Homo sapiens: one gene and its partners. The protein of the gene in region 2 purifies or fractionates together with the protein of the main gene of each other region. This does not show direct contact. Each region holds a gene or a part of one and is shown on either strand. Other genes may lie near its edges.

Region 1 (3,661 bases), about 72 Mb from region 2:
GCGCCATGCCTGGCTCCATCTATCTTTGCTATGGGCCTGGGTTAGTTCCTCTAACTTCTCTCGATCCAAGAGGAAGTCTAAACTGGATGCCTGCACTAGGTCCGTTCCTACTCTCAGCTATCTACACAATTTGGTCAAATAATAAAAAACTGAAGAAGTATTTTCTCGTTTCTTCAAATGTAGAGAAAAATTATGTTAGAGTAGTTTGGGATATTTCACAGGATGGTGATGGTAATTCTCATACCAAATGACATCAATTAATATTTAAGCAGAAAAACATTAAAAGCATATTTATGCATCCTTTGTTCAAAATGTGTCCAACAGATTTGGTGCCATGCCCCAAACCACGAAGTGACTACAGACCTAACTTGAAATATCCTAGTAGATCCCAGTAAGAAGTTTTCACCTTCTCTGTTGACAGTTCTTGTCAAGGAAGTGATGAGATAGAAAAATCAAGCACTGGAGTCAGATGGACCTCAGTTCAAATCCTGGCTCTACCAATGAGTGGTTGTGGGGGGGAGCTCTGGACAGGTGATGCTGTCCTTGAGACTTACCATATGACCACGTGCACAGAAGAAATTCGTATGTACAAGCATGCAAAACTCAAAGCCCCATATGATCAATTAAAAATTAAGACTAGGAATGCAGCCACATCAAATAACTGTTGGTGTGGGCTAAGGGTTTCCTTTAAGTAAAGGAGCAACAGGATTCTCCTATCCAAATACTTCGAATATTTTTCTAGTAAGTGAGCTTTATGCAGTCAGGCCAGCTAAACAGCATTATCTTTTAAAATCAAGGAACTGAGAGCAATTTAAAAAAGTAATCTTTGGCCAATAAAAATGATTTACTATCTTCATCTAAAAAGCTTTAATTTCTCAACATCTGGCAGAAAAACGCTGACATTTTCTTTCTCTCAACAAAAGAAAGTTAGCTTAAAATAATTGCTTAAACTTACCTCATTAATACTTCATGGAAATTTCACTCTAATTTACTTAAAAATTACTCTTCCTGACAGGGCGCAGTGGCTCACGCCTGTAATCCCAGCATTCTGGGAGGCCAAGGTGGGCAGATCGTGAGGTCAGGAGATCAAGACCATCCTGGCTAACACGGTGAAACCCTGTCTCTGCTAAAAATACAAAAAATTAGACGGGTGTGGTGGCGGGCGCCTGTAGTCCCAGCTACTTGGGAGGCTGAGGCAGGAGAATGGTGTGAACCCGGGAGGCGGGGCTTGCAGTGAGCTGAGATGGTGCCACTGCACTGCAGCCTGGGCAACAGAGCAAGACTCCGTCTCAAAAATAAGAAATAAAAATAAAATAAAAATTACTCTTCCAAGTTGTTGATAAACATCCTTTTCTTTATTCTTCTTCAAGATTTATTTTCTTGGCCTTCCCAAGCTGCTTTCGCAGACTTTCTGCCTGGCTCTTTCAAATCCACAGCAGCCCCTCTCTTTATATGCCCACCTTCCTTTCTTAAACACGCACACATTCTCCAAGCAGTGCCTGACAGCCTTCTTTGCATCAAGGAGCACTTACAAATGATCCAGAGACCGAGGAGAATACTGTCTAGGCACACCTGCTGGAGACTCCTCCCCGAAACTCTCCAACATCCCTCTAGCCAGATACAATCAACATGTGAAGATAATGAAGACCAAGAAAAAAGCCTCCTAGGGCATAGGATACAGCTGATCCTCCTCCCTACATTCAGCGATTGGCCTGCTCTGCTCTCGCTCCTCCGACAGCTTCACCTGCTCCTCTTCATGTTCCTGTGCCTGGGTCCAGGGCTCATCCTGTTGTGGTCGTGGTGGCGGCTTCAGCCCTTAGAGCTTCCCTTGGCTCTCTCCTCAGGACAGCTAAGAGCACCAGTGTGGAGTCACCCTTCAGTTCAAATGCAGATCAGTCCTTTCTTGTTTCATGACCTTTCTTTAGCCCTCACTTTCTTTTGTAATTCTAAAATAATAATTGGTTTTTTGTTGTTGTTTGTTTGTTTTTTTGAGACGGAGTCTCGCTCTGTCACCCAAGCTGGAGTGCCATAGCGTGATCTTGGCCCACTGCAACCTCCACCTCCCGGGTTCAAGCGATTCTCCTGCCTCAACCTCCTGAGTAGTTGGGATTACAGGTGCCCACCACCACACCCAGCTAATTTTTGTATTTTTAGTAGAGATGGGGTTTCGCCATGTTGGTCAGGCTGGTCTTGAACTCCTGACTTCAGGTGATCCGCCCACCTCAGCCTCCCAAAGTGCTGGGATTACGCCCAGCCAATTCCAAAATAATAATTTTTTTAAAAAAATTAGGCTGGGCCAGGCATGGTGGCTCAGGCCTGTAATCCTGCAACTTTGGGAGGCTGAGGCAGGAGGAATCCTTGAGCCCAGGAGTTCGAGACCAGCCAGGGCAATATAGGGAGCCCGTCTCTTTAAAAAAAAAAAAAAAAAAATAGGCCAGGTGGGTGGCTCATGCCTGTAATCCTAGCACTTTGGGAGGCCAAGGCAGGAGGATTGCTTGAAGCCAGGAGTTCCAGGTTGCAGTGACTGATAATCATGTCACTGCACTACAGCCTGGGTGGCAAAGTGAGACTCTGTCTTTAAAACAAAAATAAACAAATAAATGATATACAAGTATGTAGCGCATGCATTCTCAACAGGGGTGGTGGTGTCCCAAAGAGGTGAAAAGTGTTTCTTGTGGTGGTTTCTACCAATGGTGAAAAAAATCTTAAGACAATACAAAAACTTGGGACCCTCCAAAGCTCAACTCTACCCAACAAAATCTTATTCCTTTGTACTAAATCTAGCAAGGGATAGGAGGTAACTAGGAACAATGTCTAAAACAACTCTTGGAGAAGGTGATCATGAAAACAAGGTTAAGAAACACTGAGATAACACTAAAATGTACAAGTCTCTCCCCCCACAAATCACACTCCATTCCCAGAGGGAAGGGCCTATCCTTCAGCCAATTATTCTTCCAGCCCACAGGCACACATATCACATATCACTATTAATCATATATCCAAGAGCTCTGGACTAAGACCACCTTCAGAAACACAACCCCGAGGGCCTATGTGTCCTAACAGTGAAGGCAGACACTAGAGCAGATACAAGCCTACCAGCTGCTGGGAAACAGCCATGCCCCTCCCTGGCTCTGAAATTTGAGAAGCTTCCCCCTAAGAACCCTCAGAAAGGGAGAAAGAGTAAAGGGAGACCTAGCTTCAAAAAGCACCTCCACAGCTGACCCAAAAGCTCGATTCCTGCGCTGTTGAATGGTACTTCTCGGTGTACGCCGAGAGCATTCAGCTCAAGTACCATTTGAAAAAAAGATGGGGGCACATCTGCCATGAGGTAGAGTGATGACATTCATGTACAAGAACTGTCTGATGCCCCCATTACACCCAGGACATTCCAGAATCTACTGAAGAATGAAGACTGCTTGTTTTTCACATGGATTCCTTCTCACAATGTATTATCATCACAGAGCTTGTTCAAACCTGGAAGCAGACAATTCCTGGTTATTGTCCCCAGTGATTACAACAGTCTCCCTAATTTCAGCTGTGGCTCCCCGTTTTGAGCCACCAGGATAATCCTGCATTACTCCAAACTCTCTAAGTAAACTCGTATTCAACATTAGCTTCTGTTTTTCAAGTGTTCCGTGTGTTCCTTAGATTCTTCTTTCAT
Region 2 (2,825 bases):
GGCATCTGGGCTCCTGATCAGCTGATGGAGCTCCTGATTTGACAAAGGAGCTTGCCTCCTTTGAATGACCTAGAGCACAGGGAGGAACTTGTCCATTAGTTTGGAATTGTGTTCTTCGTAAAGACTGAGGCAAGCAAGTGCTGTGAAATAACATCATCTTAGTCCCTTGGTGTGTGGGGTTTTTGTTTTTTTTTTATATTTTGAGAATAAAACTTCATATAAAATTGGCCCTCTCTTTTGTTCCTTTGAGTTGGAGTTACATACAAGATGGGGGCATTACTCCTTTGGAAATGCCAAGTTTATCCTATGGCAATAGTAATACATGTTTTCTCCATGTTTAAATAAGGAAGAAGATGTTCATATAAAAGAGAAAAATGGTTTGATCAGGTCAGAAGATAAGGTAGGGGGGCCGGTCCTGTAGAAGCAGTGGACTTCCTGGTCAGTCGGACTAGGCTTCCTCACTTGGGTGGGGGTGGAGTGTGGTGGTGTGCCAAGAACATGGTTATTAGGAAACTTTGGATGCACTTTCAAGATAGAACACAAAAGAGCTGAAACAAAGTCTGAGCCTTTGGGAGACCAGTCTGCCTTTATTCCTGATTCCCTCCATGGGTATGTGCTAAAACTTCCCAATTCTACTAAAGGTGGTGGTGTACATTTTGGGAAGCGCACTACATAGGATCAAGGGCTTAGGTAACAGCTGGTTTAACAGATTGCCACAAACTTAGTGGCTCTTAAAAAAACAGAAATCTATTCGAAAGTTCTGGAAGCTTAAAGTCTAAAATGGGTACACAGGGCTGCATTCATTACAGAGGCTCTCAGAGCAGGGAGGATCAGTTCATTTCCTTGCTCTTTTCAGCTTCTAGGTGTGGGAAGGCTCGTGGCTCCTTCCTCCATCCTCAGAGCACATAACTCCAGTTTCTGCTTCCATCATCACATTGCCTTCTCCTGTAGTCAAATCTTTTGTCTCTCTCTTAAAAGGATACTACCTGTGATTACATTTAAGGCCCACCTGGATCATCTAGGATGTTCTGCCTCATCCCAGCATCCTTATCTGCAAAGTCCCTTTTGCCATATAAGATGATAAAAACATGTTACATGCTGGTTCCTTCCCAGGGGCTCCTGACTGACTGACAGATAGATGATAAACACTGTTACTGCAAATCCAAGTAATGTCCCTTAAATGTGGTTTTATTCTTTCTTACTGTGAGTTAAGGGACATCATTATATATATTGGTGATCTGACTGGAAGATGAAAACGGAGAAGGCTTTTCCCCCCCTAGTCTTAGAATTCGTGGCAGTAATGGAAAGAATCTGCACACCAGGATCAGGGCAGTTAATGTTTCCAGTCCTTGCAGTATCAGTAATTGGTTAGGTAAAATACCCAATTTTAAGTATTACACAATGAAATAAATAAATATACTAGAGCTGCGCCAACGCATAGAAGACAGATGATACACAGGGATGACATTGACAAAACTGGCATCACAGACTCGCACAGAGTATACGGAAACGAGGGAGCTTTATTGGTTACATATTGTACTGCAGAGCCAACAGAGAGCATTCGCGCCAGAGGATACATGCAGACAGGCAGCTCCAATGATACACATGCACCCAAGGAGCCCTGAGCCACTGCTTTGCCCTGGTTTCCAGCGACAGGTTCTGGCCTCCTTGGTCCCATGCTTGGAGCTGCTGCACCTAGACTCTAAGGGGCAGGGGTGAGAGAGACCAGAGCACCTGCCTGAGCAAGTAGGTGTGGACCAACAGGCTGCCCCCAACAAAGGGGCCTATAATGCAATAACAGTTTATTTGAGGGCTACTTTCTTAGCCCTCTCAATCTTTAAAATACAAAAAAATAGACTTTATTCTCTTAAAAATACATTCCATTCAGTATATGTTCTGAGCTGGGAAGCAGCAGGAAAATAGGGCCCCTTTCCTATGATCCTATGGTTGTGAGGCTTTGAGGAGAACCCTGCTCCCCACTCGGGGTATTCAAAAAATAATCCCTAAAAGCAGCTCTTTCCAAAGCAATCTTGTCAGAGAAATAACAAAACCTCATAACAAGGTAGCCAGGGACCCAGCCTCTGGGTCCCCATTCCTTTATTGGGAAGTGGTAGCACTTGGCACTGACCCACTAAATATAAAGAACTAAAACTGCCCCAGGACGACAAGTCCAAGAACACTATAGTGCCCCCTGCATCCCGAACACTCCACTGACGGGGGTTATTTATGTGCAAGCTTGCCTACAGCTGAGGGTGGGGTGGCATCCTTGGCCCCACTGCAGATCCCTTTAACCCACACTGTGACTCTTTCTCATTGCCACCCAAAAGCAAAAAACAGCCACAGCTTCTTTATCCACCTGCAGCTTTCTCTGGTTTAGTATCAGAGTGGCAAAAAAAGCAGCAGCACGTGGAAGAGATCAGCTGCTGGTACTAAGCCAGCTTCACTTCCTCCAACCAAGCAGCTCTATTGCCAGGTCCCCCAACTCACTAGGAACCCTCCAACAACCATACACCTGCCAGTAAAATTTAAGAGCCAAGCTGCGGAAGAAAACTGTCATAAAAGTGGGTTTGTTGACCGGGGGCAGTGGGACTATTTGGCTTGATTAAACAACTATTCAACTACCAGGTCTCCCCTCTACTTGGAGGCTTCCTCCAGGACCCCTGATGATGAGGCCTGGGTCCAAACAGTCACACCTCAGTTGCTTTTCAGAAACATGCCTCCCAACTTTGGGATTTGAGAGCCAGCCTTGCCAGCCATTTGAAGCCCAGAGAAACAGCCTCCAGCCTTTACTTGCTATTACAATGTTATTTTCTGCAATGCTGAGG
Region 3 (2,746 bases), on a different chromosome or scaffold from region 2:
AAACAAACAAAGCAAAAGAATACATGGGTGCTTTTGGAGGAGCATTCTATGCCACTCCAGCCCATGTTTCAACATTTTTCCAGAATGGTCCAGAGGGCCTTGAGAGAAACACGCAATAAATAGCTCCCAGCTGAAGATTTTAACAAATGACATAAGGAAAGGAAACTGAAAACCAGACTAACTGGTTAAAATACATTTTTTTATTTATAATTTTTTTTTTTAATAGACGGAGTCTCACTCTGTCTCCCAGGCTGGAGTTGCAATGGTGCTATCTGGGCTTACTGCAAGCTCCACCTCCTGGGTTCACCCGCCATTCTCCTGCCTCTCAAAAAAATAAAAAATAGAAAATAAGAAACAAGACCGGGTACGGTGGCTCATGCCTGTAATCCCAGGACTTTGGGATGCCAAGGTGGGCAGATCACCTGAGGTTGGGAGTTCAAGACCAGCCTAATATGGAGAAACCCCGTCTCTACTACAAATACAAAAAATTAGCCGGGTGTGGTGGCACATGCCTGTAATCCCAGCAACTAGGGAGGCTGAGGCAGAGGAATCGCTTGAACCCGGGAGGCGGAGGTTGTGGTGAGCTGAGATCACATCATTGCACTCTAGGCTGGGCAACAAGAGTGACACTCCATCTCAAAATAAATAAATAAATAAATAAGAAAATAAGAAACAAAAAACAGGATGGCGAAAGTGGCCGACATCTGTTGGCCATGGTGGTTTCAAACTTCTGACCTCAAGTGACCTATGTGCCTTGGTCTTCCAACGTGCTGGGATTACAGGCCTGAGCCACCACACCTGGCCCCATCCTCTTAACATAAACACTTGAATGTCAATTAAGGCTTGAACTCAATGTTAAGTCAACACAAACTCAAGTCAATGCTGAATTGACTCCAATGTCAATTAATGCTTGATGGTTTGCTATACTCACTGCATTGGGAACAGTTATCTCAAAAATGAATTTTCTCATGTTCTGCAAGGAGTGACCTCGGACTGAAGACCTTGCCACACTGATGACATTTGCAAGATTTCTGTCCAGTATGGATTCTCTGATGTCCAACGAGGTGTGAATGTGAAGTAAAGGCTTTGCCACAATCATCACACTTGTGAGGTTTCTCTCCTGTATGAATTCTCCTGTTTTGCATAGGATGAAGCTTGACTGAAGACCTTGCCTCAATCATGACATTTGTAAGGTTTCTCTCCAGTATGAGGTTGCCAATGAACTGCAATGTATGAACAATGTCTGAAAAACATGCCACATTTATTACACTCAGAAGATTTCTCTTCATCATGGATTCTCCAATGATTTGCAATTGTTGTAGTGTTACTGAAGACTTTGTGACAATCATTATATTAATCAAATTTCCCTATACCATGAATTGCCTGATGGTGAATAAGTGTTGACCGGTCACTAAAGGCTTTGCCACACTCATTACACTTGTAAGGTTTCTCTCCAGTATGAATTATCCTATGTCTTTTAAGGTGTGATTTGCGACTGAAAACTTTGTCACATGCTTCACATTTGTAAGGTTTCTCTCCAGTATGAATTCTATGATGACGTGAAAGGTGTGATTGTTCATTAAAAGCCTTTCCACATTCATTACACTTGTAAGGTTTCTCTGCAGTGTGAATTCTAATATGTCTTGCCAGGTATGAATTACGCACGAAAGCCTTGTCACAAACCGTACATTTGTAAGATTTCTCTCCAGTATGAAGTCTACGATGGTATACAAGGGATGACCAGTGACGGAAGGTATTGCCACAGTCGTTACACTTGTAAGGTTTCTCACCACTATGAAGTCTACGATGGCATAGAAGGGTTGCCTTCTGACTGAACGTCTTGCTGCACTCACTACACTTGTAAGGTTTCTCACCACTATGAATTCTACGATGGCATACAAGGGATGACCTGTTACTGAAGGTCTTGCTGCACTCATTACACTTGTAAGGTTTCATTCCACTGTGAATTCTAGTATGTTTTGCCACATAGGAACGACACACGAAAGCCTTGTCACAAACCTTACATTTGTAAGATTTCTCTCCACCATGAAGTCTACGATGCCATACAAGTGATGACTTGTAACTGAAGGTCTTCCCACACTCATTACACTTGTAAGTTTTTTCTCCAGTGTGAATTCTTGTATGTCGTGCCAGCTGTGAATTCCACGTGAAAGCTGTGTCACAAACCTGACATCTGTATGGTTTCTCTCCAGTATGAATTCTCTTATGTGACTCAAGAGCTGATTTCTGACCAAAAACTTTGTCACATGCTTCACATTTGTAAGGTTTCTCTCCAGTATGAAGTCTACGATGACGTGAAAGATGTGATTGTTGATTAAAAGCTTTCCCACATTCATTACACTTGTAAGGTTTCTTTGCAGTGTGAATTCTAGTATGTACAGCCAGGACTGAATTACGCATGAAAACCTTGTTACAAACCGTACATTTGTAAGATTTCTCTAGAGTGTGAAGTCTACGATGGTATACAAGGGATGCCCGGTGACGGAAGGTATTGCCACACTGATTACACTTGTAAGGTTTTTCACCACTATGAAGTCTACGATGGCATAGAAGGGATGACCTGCGGCTGAAGGTCTTGCGACACTCATTACACTTGTAAGTTTTCTCTCCAGTGTGAATTCTTCTATGTCGTGCCAGCTGTGAATTACACGTGAAAGCTGTATCACAAACCTTACATTTGTATGGTTTCTCTCCAGTATGAATTCTCTTATGTCTCTCAAGGGTT

The links.
Region 1: the proteins of LUZP1 (region 2) and CNN3 purify together in Homo sapiens (co-immunoprecipitation; one large-scale study listed by IntAct). This does not show direct contact.
Region 3: the proteins of LUZP1 (region 2) and ZNF808 fractionate together in Homo sapiens (co-fractionation; one large-scale study listed by BioGRID). This does not show direct contact.

Annotation. Positions count from the first base shown.
Region 1 is NC_000001.11:94,906,569-94,910,229, forward strand, and holds part of CNN3 (calponin-3), read right to left. Parts: intron 1-3,661. UniProt on the Homo sapiens protein: Thin filament-associated protein that is implicated in the regulation and modulation of smooth muscle contraction. It is capable of binding to actin, calmodulin and tropomyosin. The interaction of calponin with actin inhibits the actomyosin Mg-ATPase activity.
Region 2 is NC_000001.11:23,083,463-23,086,287, forward strand, and holds the end of LUZP1 (leucine zipper protein 1), read right to left. Parts: 3' UTR 568-2,825; downstream 1-567.
Region 3 is NC_000019.10:52,554,236-52,556,981, reverse strand, and holds the end of ZNF808 (zinc finger protein 808), read right to left. Parts: coding exon 1,354-2,746; 3' UTR 646-1,353; downstream 1-645.